Linked DNA regions of Homo sapiens: all the other regions are reported to be linked to region 6. The links are microRNA targets in miRTarBase. Many come from high-throughput screens and were not tested one by one. Region 6 holds a microRNA gene; each other region holds the end of a gene's coding sequence. Distances are between the middles of the regions.
What was found. The annotated mature microRNA hsa-miR-6778-3p reads UGCCUCCCUGACAUUCCACAG and lies in region 6 at 2,092-2,112, shown strand. An mRNA with a match to its seed (bases 2 to 7 or 8) in the 3' UTR can be bound and repressed. Matches are read on the target gene's strand: a 7mer-m8 pairs with bases 2 to 8, a 7mer-A1 pairs with bases 2 to 7 and ends in A, and an 8mer does both.

Region 1 (4,054 bases), not on the chromosome of region 6:
TCTCAGGGTTGTTCTGAGAAAATGAATGGAGGGGAGCAAGCCCAGATAACCTCTTTGCAACTCCTGCCCAGTTCAGACTATCTTTACCAAGATTCTTGATGTTCTAAGGTGTTTTTCAGTTTCAGAGATGTGTTGCTAGGATCTATGTGGTCAATTAATGCTCTTGATATAATTTTATGCAATTTTGTGTTTTAGGACTCATGAATCAAGCAAGCAAACGTGAAAAATGGATTAAGGCTGATGCCCCAAAAGGCACTGTAAGTTTTAGAAGGCAAAGTTGGTTTCAGTCCCTGAAACTGCAGGACTAAAACTGATTTGAGTTGGATTTATGATTTTTAACAATGATTCGCAGATCTGTGACTACAAAAATGTAAATCCCACCATTCATATAAAGGTTGAAAACAACAAATTGAGAATGAATACTGGTGAACTGTTTTGGGAGGCTTTTTCAAAATTTGTGCTTTGCTATTGTATTCATTTTCTACTGCTCTGTAACAAATTACCACAAATTTAGCAGCATAAAATAATACTCATTTACAGCTATGTCTAGGTTCTCCGCTCAGGGAATCACAAGGCTAGAAATCAAGATTTTGGCCAGGCTGAGTTCTCATCTGGAGTCTCTGGGAAGAAATCTACTTCCAACTTCATTCAGATTATTGGGAAAATCCAGTTCCTTGTGACTGGATGACTGAGGTCTCCATTTTCTTGCTGGCTGTCAGCCAGCAATCACTCTAAGCTTCTAGAGGCCACCCACATGCCTTCTCATGTTGCCCCTCCATCTTCAAGCCAGCAGTGATGCGCTGAGTTCTTCTCATGCTTTGAATATCTGACTTCTTCTGCAGCCAGCTGGAAGAATATATACTTTTAAAGGGCTCACTTGATTAGGTCAGGCCCACCCAGGATAACCTTTGTTTTGCCATATAATGTAACATTCATAGGAGTGATGGCCCATCACATTCAGTTTTCACTCCCACTCAAGGAAAGGAGATTATACAAAGGCATCCATCATGTGGGGACAATTAGCTTAGAATTCTTTATAATGTAGCTCTCACATGACAGGTTTTCTACTTAGTACCTTTTATGGCATCAATGTAAATTTAAGCTGTAAATAAAAAACAAATATGTGAAGCAGTTGCTACTGATTCTTAATATCTTTTGTGTAACTTAAGATATAGCTAATTAGGAAAAAAGAAACAGCTATTTTATAGCCTGATGTATGAAGATAGATTTTTATAAAGGTATACTGTATAAAGATATTTTATGAATTCCATTTCTTTCAAACATCTCTATTCCTGGAACATTTAAATTATATAATACTGGCCAGGCACAGTGGCTCATGACTGTAATCCCAGCAGTTTGGAGGCCAAGGTGGATGGATCACTTGAGGTCAGGAGTTTGAGACCAGCCTGGCTAACATGGTAAAACCCCATCTCTACAAGAAATACAAAAAAAAGAAAATTAGCTGGGTATGGTGGCTCATCCCTGTAATCCCAGCTATTTGGGAGCCTGAGGCAGGAGAATCGCTTGAACCTGGGAGGCAGAGGTTGCAGTAAGCCGAGATCACACCACTTTACTCCAGCCTGGACAACAGAGTGAAACTCCGTCTCAAAAAAATTAATTAAAATAAACAAATAAGTTATATAATACTATAACTATACTATAAGACCAGACCTATCTCTTGGTGATGTAGTTTGGATATCTGTCCCCCAAAATCTCATGATGAAATGTAATCCCCAGTGTTGGAGGTGGGGCCTGATTGGATCATGTGGGCAGATTTCTCATTAATTGTTACCACCACCTTCTTGGTTCTGTCCTCATGATAGTGAGTTCTTGCAAGATCTGACTGTTTAAAAGTGTGGGTATCTTCCCCGTCTCTCTCTTGCTCCTGCTCTTGCCATGTGATGTGCCTGCTCCCACTTTGCCTTCTGCCATGAGTAAAAGCTCCCTAAGGCCTCCCCAGAAGCCAAGCAGAGAGGCCCGTGCGATGCTTTCACAGCCTGCAGAACCAATTAAACCTCGTGAGTCAATTAAACCTCTTTTCTTTAGAAATCACCCAGCTTCAGGTATTCCTTTATAGCAAAACAAGAATGGCCTAAATCGCTTGGATTATATTTTTTATGATTAAGATAAGTCAGTTCTTTTTTTGTTTGTTTTTTGAGACAGGGTCTTGCTCTGCCACTCAGGCTGGAGTGCAGTGGCACAATCTTGGCTCACCGCAACCTCTGCCTCCGAGGTTCAAGCGATTCCCATGCCTCAGCCACCACAGTAGCTAGCATTACAGGTGCACGCCACCATGCCCAGCTAAGTTTTGTATTTTTACTAGAGATGGGTTTCACCATGTTGGCCAGGCTGGTCTTGAACTCCTGGCCTCATGTGATCTGCCTGCCTCAGCCTCCCAAAGTGCTGGGATTACAGGTGTGAGCCACTGCACCGGGCCAGGAGAAGTCCATTCTTAAACACTAATTTTTAATAAACCTTTCCAAATATTATTATTTATGATGATCTTTTTCTTTTTTTCAGACGAGGTCTCACTCTGTTGCCCAGGCTGGAGTGCAGTGGCATGATCATAGCTCATTGAAGCCTTAAACTCCTGGCCTCAGGCATCCTCCTGCCTCAGCCTCCTGAGTTGCTGGGATTACAGGCAGGTGCCACCATGCTCTAATTTTTAAATTTTTTATAGAGATGGGTTTTACTATGTTCATCAGGTCTCGAACTCCTGGCCTCCAGTTGTCCTTCTGCCTTGGCCTCCCAAAGTGCTGTGATTATAGGCATGAACCACTGTGCCCAGCCTCCTTTTCATTAATTTTCCATTTCTTTAGAGTTCTGTTTTTAACTTCTTATTTATGAAACAAAAGTCAGCTTTGTAGGATATCTCAGAGTCTCCTTTTAGTTCACCCTTCATGAAATCAGAATGTATACAAGTCTGAAAGATACTCACACATTGGTATATTTGGTATGGTTGTGGTGTGTTATACTATTAAGTAGAGGAAACTGTGTAGCAGTGAGGCAGTTTTGATAATCTTTTTTCACCCTCATGCAATTACATAAACATTTTCATGACTAAAAATAAATTAGCTAACCACAGCCAGAAAAGTCATAAGCATAACAGCAGTCAACTATATTTAAAGCTACTAATGGAATTGTACATATTTGGATCACATTGTTAAGTCCCAGACAAAAAGAAAAAGCTGCCATAATTTACTCTCTTGGACACAGACCTATGAATATGAAATACGTAAGGGCTAAAGACCTAACTAATATCTTTGATATTTTGAGTAGTTTGCATCGAAAACTTAAAAGATTTCTCTACCTGTATCCCTATTCTTGGTCTCCTTTCATAGCTCACTTTTTCTACTCCTTTTCTTCATTTATGTAGCTGTAAAATTTGTCTCCCCAGAATGAATGAATGTGTCTTCTGTTCTTGTTTAAGAAAGGATGTTACTCAAAGAGCTTTGGAGCAAGCTCTGAATGTAAAGCAACCTGCTAGGTTTCTGGAGAACATAACAGGGTGTGTTTCTTACCGGGGTCTAACCAGTGCAGGTGTCATTCCTTTAGAAAGCAATTGCCTCTTTTATAAGTTCCACCAGTTGTGTGCATGAAGCACTTAGGGATCAGATTTTTGAAAACATCTTTAATGCAGCTGCCAGAAATTTCCAAATTTAGGTTAAAATCATACTCTTATGTCATCTTATGTCTCTTGGCTATGGTCTAAAACTTCCCACTCAAATGATTCTGTTGCCTGTGTGCCCACTCCTAGGAACCTTTCCACAGCTAAGTAATATTACCTTATTTCAAAAACTTTGCAAGTCAACCTCAGTGGGGGAGAATTACTAAAAGCATTTAGCTAATACAAGGTAGCCTATAATAATACTTTGTACAATCTTTTTAAAACTTTTCAAAATAACGATGCTTTATCTTAAGTTTTTAATCCTTATTTGAAACTTGTGGGATACAAAAAGAGAATTAACTCCACGTGAGAGATAAGTAATTGAGGAAATAGAAAGGTTAAAAGGCTGATCTGATATTGCTGACAAGGCTTGTTTGCGGCAGTCAG
Region 2 (4,065 bases), not on the chromosome of region 6:
AGAGAGGCAGCTGCTGTGTTTCAGGAAACTCTGAGAGGTGGGTCCCAGCCTGACGCAGCCCGAGAGCTCCGCTCTTGCCTTCTCCACCTCACACTGGTAAGGGGGCCAGGCACACTGTCATGCTGAGGCGGGTATCAGGGAGAATTGGCTGGGACTGCAATACCAAGCCTCAGGTGGCTAAGGAGGGGGCGGGGAAGGATGGGTGGAATGAGAGGCATGGGCTCTCCTGCTTAAAAGAAGGATCTGGTGCCCTTCTCTCTCCCTTCTCAGCAGGGTCAGCGAGGAGGAATCTGTGCACCACCTCTGTCACCTGGGGCCCTCCAGCCACTTCCCCATGCTGAGCTGGCACCCTCAGGCCTACCTTCCCTCAGGTGCCCTCGAAGCACTGCTTTGAGGTCCCCTGGCCTGTCTCCACTCTTGCATTATCCTTCATGTCACCGAAGCCACCCCAACCAGCCCCTCTCCCAGACTCAGAGTAGAAGGCCCCATCCTCTCAAGCCCCAGGACCCTTCAAAGGGCTGGGACATCCTGGGACTTGGGCTCCAGCATCTGTCTCAGGCCAGATGAGGGGGCACCGGTCCCTCATAGGGCAGGGCCATGTATATATCCCTTGGTGGGGGACATAGTGTGGTGACAGTTCACTGCATATTTTGAGACCTTATTCTCTAGATCCATAGTTAATGATGCCCTGGCAGTCATTCCTCTTGCCATGGGGAAGCTTCTGATGAGAGAAAGGAGCCCCACATCCACTGAAACATCCTTTGGTTCTCAAGCTTCTTCTGGAGGCAGTAAGGAAAAATAAAACCCACCAAGGCTCAAGAAGGGAACTATAGAAAAGTTCAGGTTTTTAGGCTATAGCAGAGACAGTGAGAAAGCATCTGGGCCTTTCTCTTCCTCTTGGTCCAGGGGACCTCATTCACCAACTAGAGCTTGGTGTACAGGAACGGGGTCACAGTGCTGAGGGGGCTTGAGTCCCACCTTTCAGCTTGATGGATGCTCACCTCTTCTCAGCCCCAGCTCGTGCCCTGTTTTTCTAGCCATAGCCCCCAGATTACTCACAGCTCCTCATGCCATTTCCTGTCCAGATTGCTATGTATGACTCTGACCTCTCTTGTCCAGTGGTCTGGTGCTCACCTCCTCTCACTGCTAGAATATTCACCAAGGGTTTGCATTTGGGAAGTCCCTTACCAGCTCCTGCTTAGAGCTGGTAGGGCCATACATGTCCACACTCCCAACTGGTGGCTCTCCCGCTGAATGGGGCCTCAGCAGGTGCCCAAGCTGCTACAACCTTGGCCACTCTGTTTCTCCACCCCAGCACTGGGCATGGTAATTAGCCTTTCCCCATGTTAATTTATTCAGTTTTTTCAAGGGTCAACTGAATTCCCCACTTCCTGGGTAAGAAGCATGATCTCCTTTTAATTTCACGTCTAAGATCCTGGCAGCTTCCCCTAGCTGGTTCCTCTGTAGTCCTGCTGGGACTGTCAGCTCATTTAAATGTGGGTCTGCAGAAGGCTTTAGGTCTCCCCCAACCCCCTTACCTTTCACAGAGGAACCTTTCATCAGGATAAATGATTATTGCTGCCCTGTGGGTCTTGCTCAATACTGTTCATACCTGGAGAGAGAAGGTATTGAAACATCTCCTTTATGTGTGACTTTCCCAAATTTTTAAAAATTGTTTATGGTTTAGGCCCCTTAAATACTGTGTAGCAGGATGAAGTCTACCATTACCAGCTGGGTCACCTTGGATGGGTCTGTCAACATCTAAGCCTCAGTTCCCTCACCTGTAAAAATGAGGGTAGTCCCTACCTCATAAGGGATATTGTGAGGATGGAAAGCGAAAGTGTGAGAAAATACCTCCCAAGTGCCTGGTACATAGTGGGTGCTAAATAAACCACTTTTTGTCTGCAACTGTCCTACATAGTCATGCTTCCCACAATAGGAAGAGAGGAGTGTGGGTGAATTGGTGCTGAAATTCACAAAATCCAGAGTTCTGGGACTGGATTCTCAAAGTGTGCTTTCTAGGCTAGCAGCATCAGCATCATCCAGGAACTTACTAGAAATGCAATTTCTCAGGCTGGGCACGGTGGCTCACGCCTGTAATCTCAGCACTTTGGGAGGCCAAGATGGGTGGATCACCTGAGGTCAGGAGTTTGAGACCAGCCTGACCAACATGGAGAAACGCCTCCTCTGCTAAAAATACAAAATTAGCCAGGTGTGGTGTCACATGCCTGTAATCCCAGCTACTCGGGAGGCTGAGGCAGGAGAATCGCTTGAACCTGGGAGGCGGAGGTTGCGGTGAGCCGAGATTGCGCCATTGCATTCCAGCCTGGGTAACGAGCAAAACTCTCAAAAAAAAAAAAAAAAGAAATGCAATTTCTCAGGCCCCCTGCAGTGACCTACATCAGAAACCATGGGAGCAGGGCCCAGCAATTTGTGTTTCAATAAACCTACCAAGTGATCCTGATACACACTGTTCAAGGGCGGGGCTTAGCGGAGCAGACCTCCATCCAGAGGCCATTTTGGTGGGACAGGTTTGAGTTTTGTTGTCCAAGTCTTCAGTATAAGAGGTGGCAGTGCTAGCTGGGCTAGAATTTGGGAAACCTCAATGGGGAGAGAGGTTATGACTCAGCCAGTTAATTTGACTGGACCCTACCTTCCTAACTAGAAGGATTTGCCCTGAGAGTTCTTTGCTCACCCCTGGTTGGGGAGCAGGATGGGCATAGGTGGTTGTGTTTGTCCAAGGGGTGATTATATTACAGTGGTTCCATAAGAGGCCTGCCCATCTGGCTTTCCTGTTTTTGAGCAGGGACCTGCATGCTTTTGGGATGTCTGTAGGGCTCCTGACCTCTCAAAGGCCACCCACCACTACTCAATGGTATTTTTGCCTTCCAGCTGAGCTGGCTCCTTGTTCTAGCTTCTCAAGTAAATGTTCCCTCCCCAGTACCTTAGCCTGCCCTGGACTTGTAGCTTCTCCAAGAGTCACGTGACTCCTGACACTTTGCCCCATTTTCACCCTCCTAATTAATAGGGGTCTGACCCAACAGCCTGAGTTCTGAGTTCCCAGGACTGGAAAGTAGAGTGACCAACCATCCTGGTTTTCCTGGAACTGAGGGATGTTCTGGAGTGAGGGACTTTCAATGCCAAAACTTGGAAAATGCTGGGCAGATGGGAAAGAGTTGATCACCCTACTGGAAATGTTCCAGAGAGGCAGTATTTAGAAGGGAGTACTGAAGGGGCAATGCAGTTGCAAAGAATTATTTTTTTGCATATGCATAATGGCTGACAGATTCTTAGCTCCACACCAGTGGTCACTGTCTGTTTCCATGTTGCCATTTTTCTTCCAGTTGCCCACATTTGCTAGGTTGTCATTGACTCATGCAATCCTTGATCCCTGGGGCAATCGCAGATTCCTCTTCTGTGACCACCTCCCAGCCCCACCTCAAGTCTGGCCCTGAGTTCTCTCTGCTGTTACCTTTTGCAGTGGCCAGATATATACTCCCTTTTTCAGGTCTCTACCAGTCTCTGATCCAACCTGCGCCCACAGCCAGATTGGCCTACCCTAAACAATGGTCTCTTGTCTCTCTTCTCTAAAACCTCCAGGGACCATGCTCTAAAGTACAATGCCTAAGTCCCTACCTGTGGCCCTTTCTCCTCCCCTTTCTCTGTAAATCCTTTGCTTCTTTCCTTTAGGCTCAGTCACCTTTATAGAGACCAAGAGCATGGGCTCCTGAGTCGGACAAGCAAACAGCTCAGTCCCTGTGCCACCACTTACAAACTGTGACCTGGCCAAGTTTCCTCAGGGTTCTGTAATTCAGTCTCATCCTTAAAATGGAAAGAAAAGTCTCTGTCCTGTTGGGTTATTTTAAGGATTAATACCTGCAAAGCACTTGGAACTGCTTAATAAGTGGTACTGTCTGAAAATGCCAGATTCCCTTCTGCCTTCCAGCCTTGTTCACTTTCCAAGGAATATTCTCTCTTGGGCCCTCCACCTGCAACTAAGGCCCTAGCTGACCCCCGTTGAACCCATGGAACTTCCTTGAAAGTAGGGTTGTCACACTTAGGCAG
Region 3 (4,065 bases), not on the chromosome of region 6:
TGGGCCTCCTCTGCACTCACGAGCAAATGAACGTCACCACCGAGATTTCGGCACCCCAGAAACAGCCCAACCGGCTCCTTCCCACCAGCTGCCTCTTTACTAAAACATCCGAAACCTTTTTCTCACTTTCCCCAAGCTGTTTTCCTCACCCTTCAGAGGCCTGCTGGGAAAACAGTTCGAAGCAGGCAATTCTGCAAAGTGGGGGGGAAACAAAAACAACCAGCTCAGAGTTAGGGCTGTGCAGCCAGATGCAAGCGTGAAAACAAAACCGAACCGAAAAATCCCACCACTGTGCGGAAGGAGTGCCACACAGGCTGGGATGAGAACCGTCGGGGTTAGGGAAATGTCTCTGTAAGAAACCCTCAAGGACTAGAATTACTCCTAATGGGAAAAACGTGTAAACATGTCCCACTTAAATGAACATCACGATGCAAATGCTTAGTTATGAGGACTGAAAATGAACCCCTTTCAACCCAAAACGTGCAAGAAAGAGAAATTTCGGCATTTTAATGATGCCCAAGGACAGGCAGTCAACCAACAGCACTTGGAAAGGGCAAGTCTGGGCAGAGGTGCACATCCCGGCCTTCCTGTGTTTCTTGGGGGCCATTGTTTTCTCAGGAGGGAGGAAAAGAGGGAGGGAGGAAGGAAAAAGGGATGGAAGGAAAACGAAAGAGGAAGGGAGGGAGGGAGAAAAGGGAGGGAGGGACAGAGGGAGGGAGGAAAGGAAGGAAGGAGGAAGGGAGGGAGACAGGGAGGGACAGAGGGAAGGAAGGAGGGAGGGAGGAGAGGGAAGGAGGGAGGGAGGGATGGGGGAAGGAGGGAGGGGAGGAAAGGGAGGCAGAGAGGGAGGGGAGGGAGGGAACGGAGAGAAGGAAGGGAGAAAAGGGAGAGAAGGGAGGGAAGGAAGGGAGAGAAGGAAGGAAGGGAGAAAAGGGAGAGAAGGGAGAGAAGGAAGGAAGGGAGAGAAGGAAGGAAGGGAGAGAAGGAAGGAAGGGAGAGAAAGAAAGAAGGGAAGGGAGGGAAGGAAGGGAGAGAAGAAGAGACAAGGATGGGAGGGAAGGAAGGAAGGAAAGAAGGAAGAAAGGAAGGATTTGTTGGCTGAAGAAGAGAGGGAGGGTTGGACGGAAGGAGGAGGGAAGGAAGAGACCATGTGAGAGGAGGTGAGGAAGACAGGAAGAGAGGGGTGATAAGGAGGCTGGGGGGAGAGGGAAGGCGCTGATGCCATCCGGATCCATCCAGGCTGCCTCGTCCATGGGGCCTCCGTTTATACAACTATCCACTAAGTGAAGGAACCGGCAAAAATCTCTGCTCCCGGGGAACACTTTCACCAGCTGCCGGCTTTATTCACTCAGAAATTTTGATGCCAAAACACCCGAAAGTACATCATAACTTGAGGATTTACAGACAAGAAAGAGGAGCACAGAACTGACCGTGGGTGCCCTGGAAAAAGTTGCTTTCAACAAGGACCACAACAAAAATAAAAATAATAATAATGATAAACCTCCCTCCACTCCCAGGATCAAGGGGTTCAGACAAACTGCAGTCCAGACGGACACGCGGCAGACAAATGAATGAGGAGCTAATGCATTGCTCTGGTTTATTGAACAACAGTCCAACTTTACAGCATTAAATAAGGGGCAACCGTTCAGGAGGGGAACGATGGCTTAAAAATAAAAATGAAGACAGAGCCGGGACAGTTCACATTTCCACGTGAGTGAGGAAAAGCGAAGGATTGTTAGAGACGTGAAGAGAACGCTGGCAATGCTACAGAATGGAGCCCACGGAGGCGTGGGCTGCCCTGCGTCCCCGGCCTCGGGGCAGAACAGGGAGCAACCCCAAAGCCTGCCCCACTGTGTCCCTTCCAGCTGCCCTTCTGCCGAGAACACCCGGAGCTGAGGGTTCCAAGTTCACGGCGGAACCGCTTCCCTTAAAAAGAAAGCAAAGGTTACGTGGATTTCTCCCGTGCTTCCTTTTCCACAGACTTAAACCGGCTCAGGACGTAAGGATAACATTCTGTGCTGCTTGCAGCCCTGAGAAGTCAGCAGCCGTGAAAGGCAGGTAGTTCCTTTGCCCTCTGACACCCCGAGTTCTTGGGGTCTCGGCAGAACACTGCCTGGAGCTGAGTGGGGTCATCCCTCCTAGACACCGTTCTCCCCAGCCCAGCTTGTCTTCACGGAGGCAGAGAACCCGCTGCACGTAGAATCCAAGCAATATGCTAAGCCTCCTGAAGTATTTTTCCTCCAGTTAAAAAGCAGTTCTACATGTTGGAAAACGTCTTTCTGTTTCCCTGAATGACTGAAAGCAACTCGCAGGAATCCAGCCACGGAAAACCCCTCCGGGGGCAATATTTTAAAATTCATTTCCCCTATGGTATTCAGTTTAAAAGAGAAGAATCAAGAGTCCTTTCCGGTAATCAAATCAAAAACACCTTATGTGGAAAAGCTGGCCGCACGGGGGAACTGGACTTTTAGGGCTGAGACACCGAAGACATAACCTCCGGACCCGTGAGCCACCCACTTTTGTTTTGTTTTGAGACGGAGTCTCACTCTGGCCTCCAGGCTGGAGTGCAGTGGCGTAGTCTTGGCTCACTGCAACCTCCACCTCCTGGGCTCAAGCGAATCTTCCGCCTCAGCCTCCCGAGTAGCTGGGATTACAGGCGGGTGCCACCGCATCTGGCTAGTTTCTTGTATTTTTAGTAGACACGAGGTTTCACCATGTTGGTTGGCCAGGCTGGTCTCGAACTCCTGACCTCAGCGTGAGCCACCACGCCCGGCCACCGCCCAGTTTTAAGGACCAACTCCGCAAAGTGAAATTTCGGCAGGCAGCAGGAAGCAGGCTCTCTGGCAGCAACCTGTCGAAAATACAACACATTCCACACTTTTTTTTCTGTTTGCTTTTTGTTAAGTGTCTGCATTTTTGTACTCATCTGTCACATTTTTAACCGAACATTAAAAAAAAAGGTCTCTCTTTTTAAGAAGGGCATTTTGGCTAAAAGGTCTCTTCCCCATTTCTCAGAAGCAAGAGGTCCCTGCTTGCACGAGAATGTAAACATGAATTCAGTGATCTGGACCTCGCAGAAGTCACACATGATGATCGGGAAAGGCTCCTTCGACGCCACCCAGAATGTTCCTGCGTTTCTTCTAAACCCTCCCAGGGAGAACTCGAATCAGACATGGTGGAGGTCTTAAGTATCTGTGAAGGAAGGAACAGCTCCTCTAGGCTCTGCTGCACGCAATTCCCAAGCAGAAGCGTTGGCAGTTCCCAAGCAGAAGTCGTCCGGGCCCCGGGAATAGGGGAGGAAAGGAAACCCACTCAAAGCCACCTCTCTTGTGTCTTCTTTTTTCTTTTTGAGAGAGTCTCGCTCTTGTCGCCCAGGCTGGAGTGCAGCGATCTCAGCTTACTGCAACCTCCACCTCCCAGGTTCAAGCGATTCTCTGGCCTCAGCCTCCAGAAGCTGGGATTACAGGCACATGCCATCAGTCCTGGCTAATTTTTGTATTTTTAGTAGAGACGGGGTTTCGCCATGTTGGCCAGGCTGGTCTCGATCTCCTGACCTCAGCTGATCTGCCCACCTCGGCCTCCCAAAGTGCTGCGATTATAGACAGGAGCCACCGCCCCCGACCCTCTCTCACTTCTCAAATCTCTTTCCTTTTTCCACCTTCTAGGTGTCAAAGACAGTGGATGGTCTCTGAGGTTCAAAACCAAGCTGACCGGGTAAGTATTTACAGCAAAGCATCCAATGGGCTGCTGCGGGGATGACTTGTAAGACAACACGCTTCCTCGCTACAGGAAGCTGCTGTCCCTAATGCCAAAGAAACCGCCGCTGACGCCATCCCCCAAGGAGAACACCTGCTCCTGGTCCAGGCCCCACTCCCCCTCGTCCTGGTCCTCGGGTTCCGCCTCTGCCCCACTCCGGGCGTTCTCATACAGAAACACCTGCTCGTCCACGTGCGCGGGAGCCAGCCGGTTCCTCTTGGCGCTGACCACGTTGGCGGCGGATCCGAAGAGACGCTCAGGGGCGACGCGCGTGGCCGTCACGCACCAGTACTTCTGCAGCACCTTGGG
Region 4 (4,056 bases), not on the chromosome of region 6:
TACAAAAATTAGCTGGGCGTGGTGGCGCATGCTTGTAATCCCAGCTACTTGGGAGGCTGAGACAGGAGAATCACTTGAACACGGGAGGCGGAGGTTGCAGTGAGCCGAGATTGTGGCACTGCATTCCAGCCTGGGTGACAGAGCAAAACAACGTCTCAGAAAAAAACAAACAAACCAAAAACCACTTCCTGAAACACCTTTACCATACAAACATTGTTAAATTGGTTCACCTCTTCCCCATGCAAAATGAAGCACCTTGGCTATACTTTAACCTACAGACACAAAAGATATTTTAAAAGTCATTAACTTTCTTTTCTGTGTTTCAGAAGTTTGATTCAGTAGAAGACATCATCGAACACTACAAGAATTTTCCCATTATACTAATTGATGGGAAAGATAAAACTGGGGTCCACAGGAAACAGTGTCACCTCACTCAGCCACTCCCTCTCACCAGACACCTCTTGCCTCTGTAGCCTGGTCTTTGTGTTATCTTTGGTTTACTGGATTCAGCGCTTCCATTGTTTTCATTGATTTCAAAAGTTTATTTTCTGTGCCTTCAAGGGACAACTTTTTTAACTTTGGAGAAAAGAAAAACACTCTATAACAGAGAGTGGAAAATCACTCACGGTTTTGAAAGTTCAAACCACAGAGAAAATATTTATAACATGCAAAAAATAAAAACATTCTAGTAACTGGCCACTGGAAAATAAATAAAAATAAAAACTAGGGTTTTAAAAGTATCTTCTAAAAAACAACAACAAAAAATACTATAAACATAGCCATTATGCTCATGATACAGGCGAGCAGCAAAGGGCACCAGAAGCTGTTGCTTAAATGTTTGCAGTCAGTGCAAGACAAGTCTATGGGAAATTCCCAAATCTGTGCTCTTTACAGGACACTGCGCTGCCTTTATGTCAGTTGTTGGGCCTTACATATATACAATGTGTGGATGATTTCTTACACTAAAGATGCTGGGCTGGGTGCGGTGCCTCATGCCTGTAATCCCAGCACTTTGGGAGGCTGAGGTGGACAGATCACGAGGTCAGGAGATCAAGACCATCCTGGCTAACATGGTGAAACCCCATGTCTACTAAAAATACAAAAAATCAGCTGGGCGTGGTGGTGGGTGCCTGTAGTCCCAGCTACTCGGGAGGCTGAGGCAGGAGAATGGTGTGAACCCGGGAGGCGGAGCTTGCAGTGAGCCGAAATCGCGCCACTGCACTCCAATCCAGCCTGGGGACAGAGAGACTCCGTCTCAAAAAAAAAAAAAGGTGTTGGGTTGGTGAATATTAGCTCTCTTTTATTGTAATCCTAGAAATTCAAGTATAGGGAAGAAATGTGGTATGGAAAACCAGCAATTGTGAATGTCACCTTGAAGACAGAAACTGAAAATCCTCTGACTAGGGTGTGAAACGGTCATGGGACCAGCCTCCAGCATCATCTGCTTCAAGTAGCTTTAAGTCAAATGGAATTAACACATTCATAGTACAGAGCTCAGATTATATCCTACACTAGCCTTCAGGCAAGCATATGTCTGAGGGAAACTAAAAATTGTATTAACAATTCCAATTATGGACTTCCATTCAAAGACAGAGAAAAACTGTCCTCAAATTAGTGCTAATTCTTGCAGTAACGTTGCACAGGCCATGATATTATTCCCTGTAGAGGTTAAGAGGATTTAATTTTATTATTGTTTTACAATAAAGATGAGGAAACAGAGGCTCGAAGTAGCTATTGATCTTACTCAATATGAGAAGAGAGCCCAGATTGTAATCTGCTTTGCCTGGCTCCATGCAAGCTCATCTTCCCAGGTACATTCTCTGCGCTGTGACATTTTACAATCAAGTTGAAAAGCTAATTTAAAAAAAAAGAGAGAGAGAGAGAGAAAGATAGAAACAATTTGAAAATACAGATTTACCACCTTAAAATAAATAAACTCTTCTAGTGGGAATAAGCTTTTTTAAAAAACATACTGTCTGTCGAAAATAACAGTATATCATGATGTCAAATGCTACCAAAGCTTACAAAGGAAATTCATAGAGTATTTATGTAATTGTAGCATTGATGCAGAAAGAAAACCAAAAATAATTAAAAGGCAATAGAAGCAAATGAAAACAATAAAAACAATGTGCAGGATTATCTCTTTTGTAAGACAGCAGACAATGAGCTCTCTGGGAAAAGCTCTTAGCATCTACCCACTATCCAAATACCTGCTCAGGTGTTCTCCTTTCACAAGGTCAATGTGAAGTGATGCCTATAAGTTACATCAGGAGCATTTAATGAAGAAGCTATTTGTAAAGCTGGAACTTTTGAGACCCAGCTGAGCCTATCGTAGAGTATGCCTGCAGAGGATTACATAGAACCAAGAGACAAGAGTGTTTAAATTGGAGCTTGGATACGAAAGAACTCACTGGTCCGGTCAAAGCTAAAAGCTGTATGGTTGCTGGTCATTCTCTACTGGAATTCAACAAGCCAGGGACAGTATGGAAACAAGGACTTTACAGAAGAGCTCCAGGCTCACATTAAGAAGGAATCTGACCCTCACCCTAAAAAGCTATTGGGAGATTACTGATACCTCCAACTCACTGATTCATTGAGGCCATGCCATTCAATGCTATGTTCTCAAGAAATGTCTATGAGTCCTCTCAACCATTGCTGTTGATAAAATAGGTGAATGTCAAGTGGGGGTTAGCATTTGATAAGGTGTACGTTTGAAATAATATTTTATCGTCTCTTGTTCACAAATACAACATATAATTCCAAGAAGAAAAAAGAAGTAGAAATTCAGCATCCTTAAGATGACAGCAAGAATGAGGGGAAAAGGAAGAAAAAAAAGAAATTAAACATCTTGCAATAAAAAGCTTACAATATTTTTGTGTATTTGAACACTTCTGTAAAAAATATAAAATGGAAAATACTGACATGGGCTGCTTCTGGTGATTGGGGTTTGAGGGATTGGGTGTCGGGTTTTCTAGAACTCAGACACCAGGACAAAGTTAGAAGTGCAAACACTGATTGGAGGTTAATGTTTGAGAAAGATAAAAGGGAGAAGAAACAGAAGTATGGGTATGGGGTGGGCTTTCAGGCTCCCACCTGTGAGAGGGAAGAGGGGAGGTGTGGGGAGTGAGGAGAAAAAGCATGAGATTCAGACACAGCTCTGGGAGAGTTTTGGCCAGCTCATAGTGAGGCCCAAAGCAAAGTTTGCCCAGAGAGGAGACAGTGTTATGCTGGGCAGTAATGTCTGGGTCTTAGTGCCCCATCCTGTTAAGTCATTGTCTGGGGCTATCCTGGGAAAAAGAAAAACAACAAAAAAAAAAGACCTGCAAATGCTGTGGCCAATCCAGAAGGCGCAGCTGGACGCTGTCCACTAACTTGCTGGCCAGCAAGTTATTTCAATGGAGACTCAAGAGACCCACCTCTGGCCTGCCACAGCAACATCCTGAATTCACTGTTTTCAGTGTTGATTGTAGTAAGGACAATCACATTTACATTTTGCTTGTAATGGATGATTAAATAATAAGAGTATATAAATTCGATTGTATTTGTTTCTTACAACACTTCTGTAAAGAAGAGAGGGCAGCTATTTCTAATGCATTTTATAATTGAGGAAATTGTACCTCATTGGCCAAAATCTCACAGTGACATAGTCGCGACTGGAACCAAGGTCTCCATATGCAATTATCCTATTCATGGTCTACCTGCTTTATTAGATCTGTAATTGAATATTCAATGATTTGGATTTGGCATGCCCAAATTCCAGTGTTTTAATCCCTTTTCAACCATTACCTCACGTTTAGTTTAAAAGTATCACTTGATATCTGATTTCAATAGAGTAATAGAATTTTAGCTTTATCCAATTACAGCATTTATGCTTTCCAGATATTTTTTGGACTAAATAATTCTCATTCTGTATAAATGTGCATAGCCCTCATCATTAGTCATATATTGTGTTAGCACCTTTGTGTACTGCATGTGTATTCATTACTAAGCACTATTGTAGATGTTGAAAATAGAGCAGTGAATAAGAGAGATAGATGACAAATAAATATACAAACA
Region 5 (4,065 bases), not on the chromosome of region 6:
TACAGGCATGAGCCACCACGCCCGGCCTCTATTTTTATAATACATTTTATATATATATATATATATATATATTTTTTTTTTTTTTTTTTTTTTTTTTTTGAGATGGAGTCTTACTCTATCACCTAGGCTGGAGTGCAGTGGCGCAATCTCAGCTCACTGCAGGCTCTGCCGCCCAGGTTCAACCGATTCTCCTATCTCAGCCTCCCAAGTAGCTGGGATAACAGGCGCCTGCCACATCGCCTGGCTAATTTTTGTATTTTTAGTAGAGATGGGGTTTCACCATGTTGACCAGGCTGGTCTTGAACTCCTGACCTTGTGATCTGCCTGCCTCGGCCTCCCAAAGTGCTGGGATTACAGGTGTGAGCCATCGCGCTCAGCCAATAAATAAAATGTTTTAAACTGCTCCAGATGAGAACATCAAGGCTGAGGGTTACTAACTTGTCCACGCTATTGAGTACAGAGATAGGTCTGAGATCTGGGTGGCCTGTCACCAAGCCAGTGCTCTTTCAGGCCAACTCTTTCTGGGCCTGTGCTCACCAAGTGAGCCCAGGGGTCAGTGTGCAAGCTTGAAAAGGGAGAGCAGCCTAGTTATGTGCAGGGAGCACGCCCTGGGGGTGTTTTTTTTTTATTTTTGAGACAGGGTATCATTCTGTCACCCAGGCTGGAGCGCAGTGACACAATCACGGCTCACTGCAGCCTCGACCTCCTGGGCTCAGGTGATCCTCTTACCTCAGCCTCCCAGGTAGCTGGGACTATAGGTGCACACCACCGTGCCCAGCTCATTTTTCATAGAGACGGGGTTTCGCCATGTTGACACGGCTGGTCTCAAACTCCTGAGCTCAAGCCATCCACCCACCTCGGCCTCCCAAAGTGCTGGCACTGCACCCAGCCTGACTGTTGATTCTTATTTTTTTGAATCAGTCTATCACCCAGGCTGGAGTGCGGTGTTGTGATCTCAGCTCACTGCAACCTCTGCCTCCCAGGTTCGAGATTCTCCTACCTCAGCCTCACGAGTAGCTGGGCCTAGAGGCAAGCACCACCATGCCCAGCTAATTTTTGTATTTTTAGTAGAGGCGGTGTTTCACCATGTTGGCCAGGCTGGTCTGAAACTCCTGGCCTCAAGTGACCCGCCCACCTCAGCTTCCCAAAGTGCTGGGATCACAGGCATGGGCCACCACGCCCGGCATGAGTGTTAATTCTTAAAGCATTTGGCAGCCCTACTGAGGCTCCTGCAGCCAACCCCATCAGTGGTGGCCTGTGTCCAGGAGAAGCACACCCAGTGAGTTGGCCGGCCCCAGTGCTGGGCATGAGGCAGGAAATGAGCCCCTCCATCTGCTGAGCTGAGCCCCAGCACTCTTCGGACACTCCCGCCACAGCGAGCAGATGCCCAGGGCTACTACCAAACGCCAGCGTTTACCTGTGTGAGAGCCTACACACAACATGGAAGAGCTTCTAACACTTATGCATTTATTTTCATGTGTAAGAAGAAAAACGTAACTAGCACGTGAACATGACTGCATGGATACACGGCTCAGCACGAGGCTAAAGTCAGAAGTGAGTGAAAACAAAATAGCATGTTGATTTAAGTGAAATAACAGAACAGGAGGCCTTTGGTTATAACAATTGTGGAGGTGGTCTGTGAATGCAGAAGTTCGGGACTCCCTGCTCTAGGCTCAGGGCAAGACGCTGTGGTCTGGGCCGAAGCCCCTGGGGTTCTACAGAGAAGCCTGCCCAGTGCACGGCCCCTGTGGCATTCTCGTGGGAGCGTGTGAGACCCCAGGGAGGGAAGCACATTCTGTTTAACTTGTCCGTGCCGTACAAAATGTCTTAGAAGTGATAAAGCAACAATGATGATTCTCCTTCAAAGGGAAGAAGAATCTTCCAGGTGTGGTCTTGAGGACGCAGAGGTTACAACACAGGCTGGGCTGCAGGGCCCAAGTAGGACTTGAGGTCATAACCAGAGGACTGAAGGGACACCTGTCCTGGCACCATACTGGAGAAGTGCTTGTTTGTGTTTGGGGGAGAGGGGGTGCATGGCCCAAGTCAAGGCTGAAGGAGGAACGCTTGGCCCCTGCACCCTGTTCCCAGCATATACCAGGCTCTCACCCCATGCCTGCTGACTCAACACAGCACCCGGGAGGTGCCGCCAGAAGGCAGGTCGGGGGATGCTGACATCCCGGGGTGTCTGCGGACCACCCTCTCCTCTTGGGTCTGGGCCCTGGCCCCACTTTGCACCACACATTCCAGGGCGGGGAAGTCCATGGCTGTGCCCCAACTGGGTCCCATTCCTGTACATGTGCGAACCAAGGGGGTGTTTGCTATTATGCTCCCCACTAAATCCAAAGAATGTTGGTTCCCATCATTTCAACCTCAACATTTTCAAAAAGCACTTTTTTTTTTGGAGACAGAGTCTCGCTGTGTCTCCCAGGCTGGAGTGCAGTGGTGCCATCTCAGCTCACTGCAACCTCTGCCTCCCGGGTTCAAGCAATGCTCCTGCCTCAGCCTCCTGAGTAGCTGGGATTACAGGCGCACGCCACCACACCCAGCTAATTTTTGTATTTTTAGTAGAAACGGGGTTTTGCCGTGTTGGCCAGGCTGGTCTCAAACTCCTGACCTCAAGTGATCTGCCTGCCTTGGCCTCCCAAAGTGCTGGGATTACAGGCATGAGCCACCACATCCGGCCTAAAAGGCACTTTTTTTTTTTTGAGACGGAGTTTCCCTCTTGTTGCCCAGGCTGGAATGCAATGGTGCAATCTCACTGCAACCTCTGCCTTCCAGATTGAAGCAATTCTCCTGCCTCAGCTTTCCCCAGTAGCTGGGATTACAGGCACCTGCTACCATGCCTGGCTAATTTTTGTATTTTTAGTAGAGACAGGGTTTCACCATGTTGGCCAGGCTGGTCTTGAACTCCTGACCTCAGGTGATCCACCCACCTTGGCCTCCCAAAGTGCTGGGATTACAAGCGTGAGCCACCATGCCCAGCCTCTAAAAGGCACTTTTTAAGGGACCTTGGAGTTTGTCCTCAAACAGCTCAACCCCACAGGCGAGGCTGGTCCTAGCACCCCTACCAGACAGCTAGTCAGTGAGAGGGGTCCAACCTCCCCCAGCTTTTCCCTGGAAGTGGGGCAGGGTCAGCAGGGAATTCTGGGGGTGAAGCTCATGGTCCAGGAGCCTTCTGGTGCCCAGAGGGTAGAGGAGTGGAAGGCCTGGGGGTGCTCAGCCCCACTGTATCCTGGACAGGCTGGGCCGGCTTGCAGGCTGGTCTCCATGGAGGCTCAGAAGGAAAGTGTGCAAGAGCAGGTTAGGAAGGGAAACCAAGTCAGGGAAGGGCCCCAGCCGGGGCTAGTGGTCTGTTCACTGCCCAGCGGGCACTCTCAGCAGCACCCCGCAGCACTCCGCTTCACATGGCATGGCTTGCAGAAGAGATGGTTGTTCAGGGGGTAGCAGCCTTGGTCCGTGGGCTCGACAGACAGGAGGATCCTGCAGTCCTGGGGAGACAAAGACACATGCTGACCCGCCCTGGGCCTGGGCGCTGCCTGCACAGGGGAGGGACTCACTTGGCATCTGCCGAATAAACCAACTGCATGAGTGGATGCCCTTCCTAAGTGGGAGGAAGGAGGCTGCTCACTGCTGCCCTCCCAACACCCGGGCCAGGTCTCCATAAGGGAAGATGAGACACAGACACACATGGAGGCTTTAATCCACGTGGAGGCGCCGGTGAGGACAGACATTCACCGTCAGGAGAACTAAGGACACCTGGGGAAGTCCCCTGAGGGTTCAGGGAAAGTTGGGGCTAGAAGAGTCTTAATAGCTCCTTTATTATTTTTTAAAATTTGTTTTTATCATTTATTTATTTTGAGACAGTCTTGCTCTGTCGCCCAGGCTGGAGTGCAGTGGCACGATCTTGGCTCACTGCAACCTCTGCTTCCCGGGTTCAAGCGATTCTCCTGCCTCCCAGGTAGCTGGGATTACAGGCGTGTGCCACCACACCCAGCTAATTTTTGTATTTTTAGTAGACAGGGTTTTGCCATGTTGGTCAGGCTGGTCTCGATCTCCTGACCTCAA
Region 6 (4,065 bases):
CTCACTTTGTCGCCCAGGCTGGAGTGCAGTGGCACCATCTTGACTCACTGCAACCTCCGCCTCCTGGGTTCAAGTGATTCTCCTGCCTCAGCCTCCCGAATAGCTGGGATTACAGGCATACGCCACCACGCCTGGCTAATTTGTGAATGTTTAGTAGAGACGGGGTTTCACCATGTTGGCCAGGCTGGTCTCAAACTCCTGTCCTCAGGTGGTCCACCTGCCTCGGCCTCCCAAAGTGCTGGAACTGCAGGCATAAGCCACCACGCCCAGCAGTTCGATTGTTTTAGATTTCACATAGAAGTAAGATCACATGGCCAGGTGCGGTGGCTCACACCTATAATCTCAGCACTTTGGGAGGTCGAGGTAGGAGGCTCACTTGAGTCCAGGAGTTCGAGACCAGCCTGGGCAACATGGTGAAACCCCATCTCTACAAAAATATAAGAATTAGCCGGGTGTGGTGGCACTGCCTGTGGTCCCAGCTATTCAGCAGGCTGAGTGGGAGAATCGCTTGAGCCTGGGAGGTAGAGGTTGCAATGAGCCGAGATGGCACCACCGCACTCCAGCCTGGGTGACAGAGTGAGACTCTGTCTCAAAAAAGAAGTGAGATCATGCAGTATTTGTCTGTCTGAGCCTGGCGTATTTCACTTAGCATAAGGTCCTCCAAGTTCATCGGTGTTGTTGCAAATGACAGAATTTCTTTTTTCAGACTGATTATTATTACATTGTTTATATATATATGTGTCACATTTCCTTTGTCCATTCATCTGTTGATGGACATGGCTTTATTCCATAACTTGGCTATTGTGAATAGTGCTGCAGTGAACATGGGAGTGCACATGTCTCTTTGACATACTGATTTCAAGTTCTTAAGATATAGATTCACAAGTGGGATTGCTGAATATGGAATTGATTTGTGTGGGTGAGGCGGGCATCCAGATAACATTTTTGTCCAAATGGATGCCCAGTTGACCTAGTGCCATTGATTGAAAAGGTCATCCTCTCCCCACTGCACTGCAGCGTCACCACTGGCATGGATCCAATGACCTGTGTTGTGTGTGGTTCTGCTTCTGGTTAAGCCAGATGCTCTGCCCTTCCATGAATGCGTGCTGCCTTAATTACTATAATTTGTCAAGCATTTTGTGACACAAAATACACAACGCAATGATGTTTTGTGTAAAGGTTTGGTATGATTTTCCTTTTATGGTTTTTGTTATTTACATTTCATTTTCTATCTTTCTTGCTTTTATATACTTTTTGGCTTTTTTTTTTTTTTTTTTTCAGATGGAGTCTCGCTCTGTTGCCCAGGCTGGAGTGCTGGAGTGCAGTGGCACAATCTCGGCTCACTGCAAGCTCCACCTCCCGGGTTCACGCCATTCTCCTGCCTCAGCCTCCCAAGTAGCTGGGATTACAGGCGCCCGCCACCATATCTGGCTAATTTTTTGCATTTTTAGTAGAGACGGGGTTTCACCGTGTTAGCCAGGATGGTCTCGATCTCCTGACCTCATGATCTGCCCGTCTCAGCCTCCCAAAGTGCTGGGATTACAGGTGTGAGCCACCGCGCCCAGCCCCTACTTCTTGTTTTTCAATGTTGTATCCAGTGACCTTGCTAAATTTGCTTATTCTAACAGTTGGCCCCTAGCATCTTGATTTTCTAGGTATATTGTGTTGTCTGTGTGTAATGTCAGTTTTTAAATTTCTTCTTTCCTAATCGTTATGCCTTTTGTTTCTTTTTCTTGCCTCATTATACTTGGAATAGAAGTAGTATTAGCAGGCATTTTGGTCTTGTTCCTGAAGGTAACCATTTTGGTTTCCATTGTGTGGTCCCGTCACATTTGTTTCATTCTGCAGGTGCTTTTTGGTTCCTTCTCAGCAGGTAGTGCCCCAGCAGCAGGGCTCACTACAACCCTGGGACTCCTCAGGGACTCCTGGGTCTGTGAGCCATACTTGGTTGAGCAGGCTGAACACACCAGTATCCATCCTGTCTCACCCTCAAGTCCTCATCTAGGACATCATTCCTCTTGTCATGGTGGGTGGAGCCAGTTCAAGTGGGAGGACAGGAGGCAGGTGTGGTTGGAGGAAGCAGCCTGAACCTGCCTCCCTGACATTCCACAGGTGAACCCAGATACTGGCTACATCAACTATGACCAGCTGGAGGAGAACGCACGCCTCTTCCACCCGAAGCTGATCATCGCAGGTGATGCGCGGGGCGGAAAGTCACCTTGTTCACCAGTAGCCTGGTGCCTCTTACAGAATGAGGATGGAAAGATGTTCGCACCCTGTTGAGCCCACTGCTAGTTTCTGCCCTGGATAACTGAGTTTCTGGGGTCTACATATATTAGTTTCTTTCAGGATACAGATGTGTGTTTGCTGCTTTTTGTGCTATGTAGATTAAGATGTGAGACTGTTCTCAGAGAAGCATCTAGAAATGTCAGGCCCTGACTGCGCTGGCAATAGTAGTTGGGGCCATCTCAACCACCAAGACGTTGAAGAGTTAGAGTGGTTGCCTTTAGCACAGAGGTGCTTTTTGAGGGCATTCTCCATTTTTGCTCTGAGACTTTAAGGGAAGAAATCTCTGGGCTTTCAGATCTGCACATCTAGAGGCCACTGTGAAGCCAACTCAGCTGGCCGGTGGACATCTCTGATGCAGCTGTGTCACCTTTCCTGTCTCAGGAACCAGCTGCTACTCCCGAAACCTGGAATATGCCCGGCTACGGAAGATTGCAGATGAGAACGGGGCGTATCTCATGGCGGACATGGCTCACATCAGCGGGCTGGTGGCGGCTGGCGTGGTGCCCTCCCCATTTGAACACTGCCATGTGGTGACCACCACCACTCACAAGACCCTGCGAGGCTGCCGAGCTGGCATGATCTTCTACAGGAAAGGTGAGCTCCCGAATGTTGGGTACAGATGGGTACCATGGTTTACATTTCTCCTGTGGGGGTTCAGATTCAGTTGAGGGAGCTGGGAAAAACTCTGACCTGGGATCCTTGGAAAATATTAAGATCCCAGTCCCTTAAAGAGCTGCTTAGGAAGGAGCAGTGACAGGCTTTACAGAAAGGATTCCCGGCCAGGTGAGGTGGCTCGCGCCTGTAATCCCAGCACTTTGGGAGGCCGAAGCGGGCAGATCACGAGGTCAGGAGATCAAGACCATCCTGGCTAACACGGTGAAACCCCGTCTCTACTAAAAACACGAAAAATTAGCCGAGTGTGGTGGTGGGCACCTGTAGTCCCAGCTACTCAGGAGGCGAAGGCAGGAGAATGGCGTGAGCCTGGGAGGTGGAGCTTGCAGTGAGCTGAGATTGTGCCACTGTACTCCAGCCTGGGCGACAGAGCGAGATGCCGTCTCAAAAAAAAAAAAAGAAAGAAAGAAAGGAATCCCCAGAAGGAGACTGTCAGCCACAGCTCCTGCTTCACTTTTGTGCATCCAGGTCCTAGGAACATAGGAGGGGGATCAGCAACCACTATGTGTTAGGATGGCGCCGGTTGCTGAACTCGAGAGGCAGGTGTTTGAATGAAAGGAGGGTGCATGGCTGGCTGGGGGCCACTGGGAGGCCTCACAAGGCTGCATTATTCTGGTGAACTTACAGTGATCCATCATGTTTCTCAAAGAGAAAGACTCATAGTAGTCAAACTAGAAGACATGGATGTATAAACATTAATATCATTTTAGTGAAGGTTTTTCTTTCCATTACCTCATAACCTACCCCTAGGCACTCCCCTTATTTTCGAATTCCCATACCTGGGAAAGCCTGTTAGTGGTCAGGTCATCATTTAGCCTGTGGTGAGACCTGATGCGCCAACTTTGCATCAGCAGAGACACCAGCCCTCTGGTGACTACATTACTCTTTTTTTTTTTTTTTTTTTTTTTTTTTTTTAGTATTTATTGATCATTCTTGGGTGTTTCTCGTGGAGGGGGATTTGGCAGGGTCATAGGACAATAGTGGAGGGAAGGTCAGCAGATAAACAAGTGAACAAGGGTCTCTGGTTTTCCTAGGCAGAGGACCCTGCGGCTTTCCGCAGTGTTTGTGTCCCTGGGTACTTGAGATTAGGGAGTGGTGATGACT
Region 7 (4,065 bases), 20 Mb from region 6:
AAAACGCCAAATGGAGGGAGGAGGAGAGACTGAACATCCTCAAGAGGCATGCTAAGGATGAGGAACGGGAGCAGAGGCTAGAGAAGCTGGACTCCCGGGATGGGAAGTTCATCCAGTGAGTGCATCTTCTTCCTGCCAGGGTCTTTCATGGGGAAGGTCTTAAGAGGCAGGCTGGCAGCTGGTTCCCGTTCCAGTGTTTCTGTGTTTGCACATGGAGCCCAGCCTTCAGACCACCTTGGCTACTACTCTTCCTTTCTGACCACACAGTGGGATGTTTTTCATTTGAGGGGAGGAGAAGTGAATTTGGTATTTTCTAAATCATTGAAATTCCTTGACCTTCCTTTTTAATAAGAATTCATGGCCCAGGAAGCCTTTTTCCAATGAGGCTTTGACTTATTTTCCAAAACAGATACATTTTCCCTTATGGACACTGGTTTAAAAACATTTGGTTCCAGGTGGAGTCACTCGAAAGTTATCTATGGGAGCTTAAAAGAGGTTGTGTTTTTACAGCTGCTCTATGGCTAACAACCCATTTCTTCTGAAGCTGCCAGAATAGTTGACTGATTGAAAATGTTTTTGACTTGCATTTGCCTGTCTTCTCTTCCTAGCCGCATGAAGCTGGAGAGTGCATCTACTTCCTCCCTGGAGGATCGGGTGAAGCGGAATATCTACTCTTTACAGAGAACTTCGGTAGCTCTGGAGAAGAACTTTATGAAAAGATGAAAACTGTCCCCTCTCTTATTGGTTTTCCTGCATTTTCCAGGGAAGCTGCTGACCCCTTAATTCTCTTTATAAGAGTTCAAATGACTTCTTTCACAGATGTCAAACCACCAGTGTTCAAAGTGACCCTGCTTCATTGAGTCCTGAAACAGCTCACTTCCTTTGAGAGCTAGTGTGACTTGCTTTGTGGGACACTCAGTAACTTTGGGTTTTGACTCTTTAACGGGTGGGCACTGGACCATCTCGGTGGGAGTGCTTGTGCCACTCTGGAAGGCTGTTCCCTGGGGTTGTGATGTTTATCATGCCACTTCCTTCTTACCTGTGCCAACAGACCTATTTCACTGCCTCAGCGTACACCAGACCCTTCAGAAACCTCTCTGGTGTCACCCAGATAGATTGTGCTTACTGAGACAAATGAACGTTTACTTGATTTAGAAGATAATGTGACAGAATGATGTCAGGTTAGGTCAAAGCCAAGGGAGTGACAGAATCTGGAAAATCAAACAATACAAAAAGCCCTAAATGAACTGTTAACTATTTGATCTTTGGATGTAAAATTGTAATGCGTATATGTACAAATGTACAATTTTTACATGCTTTTAAAAAAGGTTAGCTTTGTGAAAATACCTTGTTTGGTCAATGACTTTACTGGGTAATAGAACCACATTGAACCTTGATGGCAAGTAATACAATAAGGCAGGCCAGCTCGTTTTTCTCTCTGAATCTGGCTGGTTTAGGAGGAGCCTGGGTTTATCGACGAGATCTGGAGTATCTATTCTTTTCCACTGCTTGCAGTCTCCAATGTAGGCAGTGTAAAGGTATAGTAAAATGATTTTAGGAGTCAGAACCAAATTGCCAATATGCTCCATGGCTCCTAAAGGAAAATAAAATGGAAGTTTTTATTTTGCGGCTTCACTTCTTACCGTGTAGTAACCTTACTACAATTACAGATTTTCAGGAGTTGTTTGCTAGTCTCTTTCAGTCAGGTACTAAAAAAAAAACAAAAAACAGGCTGGGCGCGGTGGCTCACACCTGTAATCTCAGCACTTTGGGAGGCTGAGGTGGGCGGATCACGAGGTCAGGAGATCGAGACCATCCTGGCGAACACGGTGAAACCCCGTCTCTACTAAAAAAATACAAAAAATTAGCCGGGCGTGGTGGCGGGCGCCTGTAGTCCCAGCTACTCGGGAGGCTGAGGCAGGAGAATGGCGTGAACCCAGGAGGCGGAGCTTGCAGTGAGCCGAGATTGTGCCACCGCACTCCAGCCTGGGTGACAGAGCGAGATTCCGTCTCAAAAAACAACAGCAACAAAACAAAACCCTCGAGGGGCCACTCTCCTGTCTTTACTCCTTTTCCCTTCTCTATTCTTTCACCAGAAGCCCTCATTTGACCAGTGAACTCCTAGGCCCTCTTGACCCGCACATTAGCTGGGCGATTTCCTTGTTCTGCTAATTCCTAATTCTGCTTAAAATGTATTTGGATTTCTGTTTTTGAACACTTATGATGCCAGGCACTGTAATGCTTGAAACCCGATCTTTCCCTAGAGAATGTAACATACGTTTTTATTCATTTAATCACTTCATTATGCCGGGGTTAATTATGTTTATTTTATAATTGGTAATAAAGGCCACATTTATTTTTGTAACTGTTTAAAGAGCGACCACCTGTGGAGTACCGTGTTTACGAATTTCCATGCAGAAAGAACAACGTTGACCTGTAATTTGTGTCGAATATATGGAGATCCCTCATCTGAGAATTATGTAACAAAGCGTGGGGCAGTTTACTCAAAGATTTTACGAAATGAGCCAGAGTAAGACGATTAGTGGGATAGGTGTCTGAAGGTGCTGGCGGCCTCTGAGCTCTGACCCTTTGCGGGGAGAACAGGCAGCAGGTGGGTGGGCGCGGGGCCCATTCATAAAAACCAGTGTTCCTGGCCTGCTTCTCTCATTGGCCCTGGGGGCAAGGGGCGTGCCCCGCGGGTGGAGCGCGCCCGGGGCCCAGCAGAGTGGGCAGATCCACGCTTAGGTGGAGCGAGGGGGCGTTCCTTGGCTTTCTAGGCTGGACTTTCTCTTCCCCTTGCTGCGTCCCTCCTCTCCCCCGGGGTGGGCATGGTACGTCCCGCCCTCCTCGCATTCCCGTCCCTCCTTCCCTTCCGGAGCGGTGGCATCGCCGCCATCTTGGCATTCGGGTTGCGGGAAAGAGCCAAACCCTGGCGTTGGGGGGCCCGGGCGGGGAGCCCCTCCCGCGGTCCACAGCGACGCCTGCCCAGCCCTCCTCCCCTTCCGGCTCCGGCACGGGGCCCCGAGGCGTTCGGAGGCCAGGCGGGTTTCTGTCAGGCCCGGGGAGGAGGGGCGGGCGGGGCGGCCGCTGCCTCCCCGGGACGGGCCGTACCACGCGGACGGGGAGGACGGGGCCAGGGGACTGCAGGGCGGCTGCACCGCCCGGGGGCGGGGTGCGGAGCGGGCCGGCGGGCTCCCCGGGGCGGGGCGGGAGGGCGGGGCGTGGGGCGGACGGAACCACCGGGGCGGGGTGGGAGGTAACGGGACGGGCGCGACCATGGCGCGGTGAGGGAGCGGGGGTGGGGATCGGTCCGGGGGAGGCCTGAGGCCGCTGGCTTGTGCGCTGTCTCCGCCGCCCCCCTCTTTCGCCGCCGCCGCCGCCGCCCCGGGCATGTCGTCCAACTGCACCAGCACCACGGCGGTGGCGGTGGCGCCGCTCAGCGCCAGCAAGACCAAGACCAAGAAGAAGCATTTCGTGTGCCAGAAAGTGAAGCTATTCCGGGCCAGCGAGCCGATCCTCAGCGTCCTGATGTGGGGGGTGAACCACACGGTAACCAGCTCCTGCGCGCCCCTCTGAGCGCGGCCCCGCGCGCTCCCACGCCCCCTGCAGCCCTGGGCCCTTGCCCCGCAGGCCCTGCCGGTGACGCCTGCCACCCCTCGCCAAGCCACTTGCACGCCCACCCCACCCTTGCACGCCTTTCGGCCCCGTGTGCACTCCCCGCACGCCACGCGAGGCCTGGTGTCTCTGTGGTCTGCCGTCGCCACCTCCCCTTCCCTCCAGCCCTTCTGGCTTCCTGCGTGTGGCGTGCTCGCTTGGGGCAGCCCATGGAGCGCAAAGGCAAGGCCTCAGTGCAGTGGAGTCGCTTTCATCCCTGCTTCTCCTCCTCCCCCCTCATCCTGTTTGTGAGGGTGTATATTCCCCCTTGTTCCTTACAGCCGGCTGCCAGCTCTGTCAAGTAGCAGTGGTCTGCCCAAATAGTCCTCTCTTTCTGATCGTTTGGTTGTTGTGGCTGCTCAAATTCTTCCATCCTCCAGGCCTCCTTACCTTTGAATGTAGAACTCCACC

Region 1: miRTarBase lists FAM185A as a target of hsa-miR-6778-3p. Seed matches in the 3' UTR shown: 7mer-m8 at 438-444.
Region 2: the mRNA of TTC31 is a reported target of hsa-miR-6778-3p. Seed matches in the 3' UTR shown: 7mer-A1 at 782-788.
Region 3: miRTarBase lists ZBED1 as a target of hsa-miR-6778-3p. Seed matches in the 3' UTR shown: 7mer-m8 at 3,577-3,583 and 7mer-m8 at 2,632-2,638.
Region 4: the mRNA of CLNK is a reported target of hsa-miR-6778-3p. Seed matches in the 3' UTR shown: 7mer-m8 at 1,015-1,021, 7mer-m8 at 1,149-1,155 and 7mer-m8 at 1,181-1,187.
Region 5: miRTarBase lists FBLIM1 as a target of hsa-miR-6778-3p. Seed matches in the 3' UTR shown: 7mer-m8 at 2,938-2,944, 7mer-m8 at 2,637-2,643 and 8mer at 2,469-2,476.
Region 7: miRTarBase lists CWC25 as a target of hsa-miR-6778-3p. Seed matches in the 3' UTR shown: 7mer-m8 at 1,771-1,777 and 7mer-m8 at 1,907-1,913.

Annotation. Positions count from the first base shown.
Region 1 is chr7:102,808,095-102,812,148 of GRCh38, forward strand. FAM185A (family with sequence similarity 185 member A) reads left to right here. Exons shown (of 8, transcript NM_001145268.2): 8 at 196-1,131. The coding sequence ends at 308. FBXL13 (F-box and leucine rich repeat protein 13) reads right to left here. Exons shown (of 21, transcript NM_001394494.2): 21 at 3,095-4,054. Among named protein-coding and RNA genes, the nearest start is that of FAM185A, 61 kb to the left of the region's middle.
Region 2 is chr2:74,492,652-74,496,716 of GRCh38, forward strand. TTC31 (tetratricopeptide repeat domain 31) reads left to right here. Exons shown (of 13, transcript NM_022492.6): 12 at 1-96; 13 at 271-1,908. The coding sequence ends at 567. Among named protein-coding and RNA genes, the nearest start is that of LBX2, 4.9 kb to the right of the region's middle.
Region 3 is chrY:2,484,852-2,488,916 of GRCh38, forward strand. ZBED1 (zinc finger BED-type containing 1) reads right to left here. Exons shown (of 2, transcript NM_004729.4-2): 2 at 1,584-4,065. The coding sequence ends at 3,784. The region is part of intron 1 of DHRSX (dehydrogenase/reductase X-linked); the gene reads right to left. Among named protein-coding and RNA genes, the nearest start is that of DHRSX, 14 kb to the right of the region's middle.
Region 4 is chr4:10,486,884-10,490,939 of GRCh38, reverse strand. It overlaps CLNK (cytokine dependent hematopoietic cell linker), which reads left to right. Exons shown (of 19, transcript NM_052964.4): 19 at 327-4,056. The coding sequence ends at 473. It overlaps LOC105374482 (a long non-coding RNA gene), which reads right to left and starts at 1,827. Exons shown (of 3, transcript XR_925387.4): 1 at 1,745-1,827.
Region 5 is chr1:15,783,971-15,788,035 of GRCh38, reverse strand. It overlaps FBLIM1 (filamin binding LIM protein 1), which reads right to left. Exons shown (of 9, transcript NM_017556.4): 9 at 1,447-3,488. The coding sequence ends at 3,375. Among named protein-coding and RNA genes, the nearest start is that of UQCRHL, 22 kb to the left of the region's middle. RefSeq lists enhancers at 116-880, 881-1,645.
Region 6 is chr17:18,338,861-18,342,925 of GRCh38, reverse strand. MIR6778 (microRNA 6778) reads left to right here and starts at 2,040; the gene lies at 2,040-2,112. SHMT1 (serine hydroxymethyltransferase 1) reads left to right here. Exons shown (of 12, transcript NM_004169.5): 6 at 2,113-2,194; 7 at 2,671-2,883.
Region 7 is chr17:38,798,750-38,802,814 of GRCh38, reverse strand. It overlaps CWC25 (CWC25 spliceosome associated protein), which reads left to right. Exons shown (of 10, transcript NM_017748.5): 9 at 1-115; 10 at 609-2,374. The coding sequence ends at 723. PIP4K2B (phosphatidylinositol-5-phosphate 4-kinase type 2 beta) reads left to right here and starts at 3,259. Exons shown (of 10, transcript NM_003559.5): 1 at 3,259-3,549. The coding sequence starts at 3,391. RefSeq lists an enhancer at 3,264-4,065.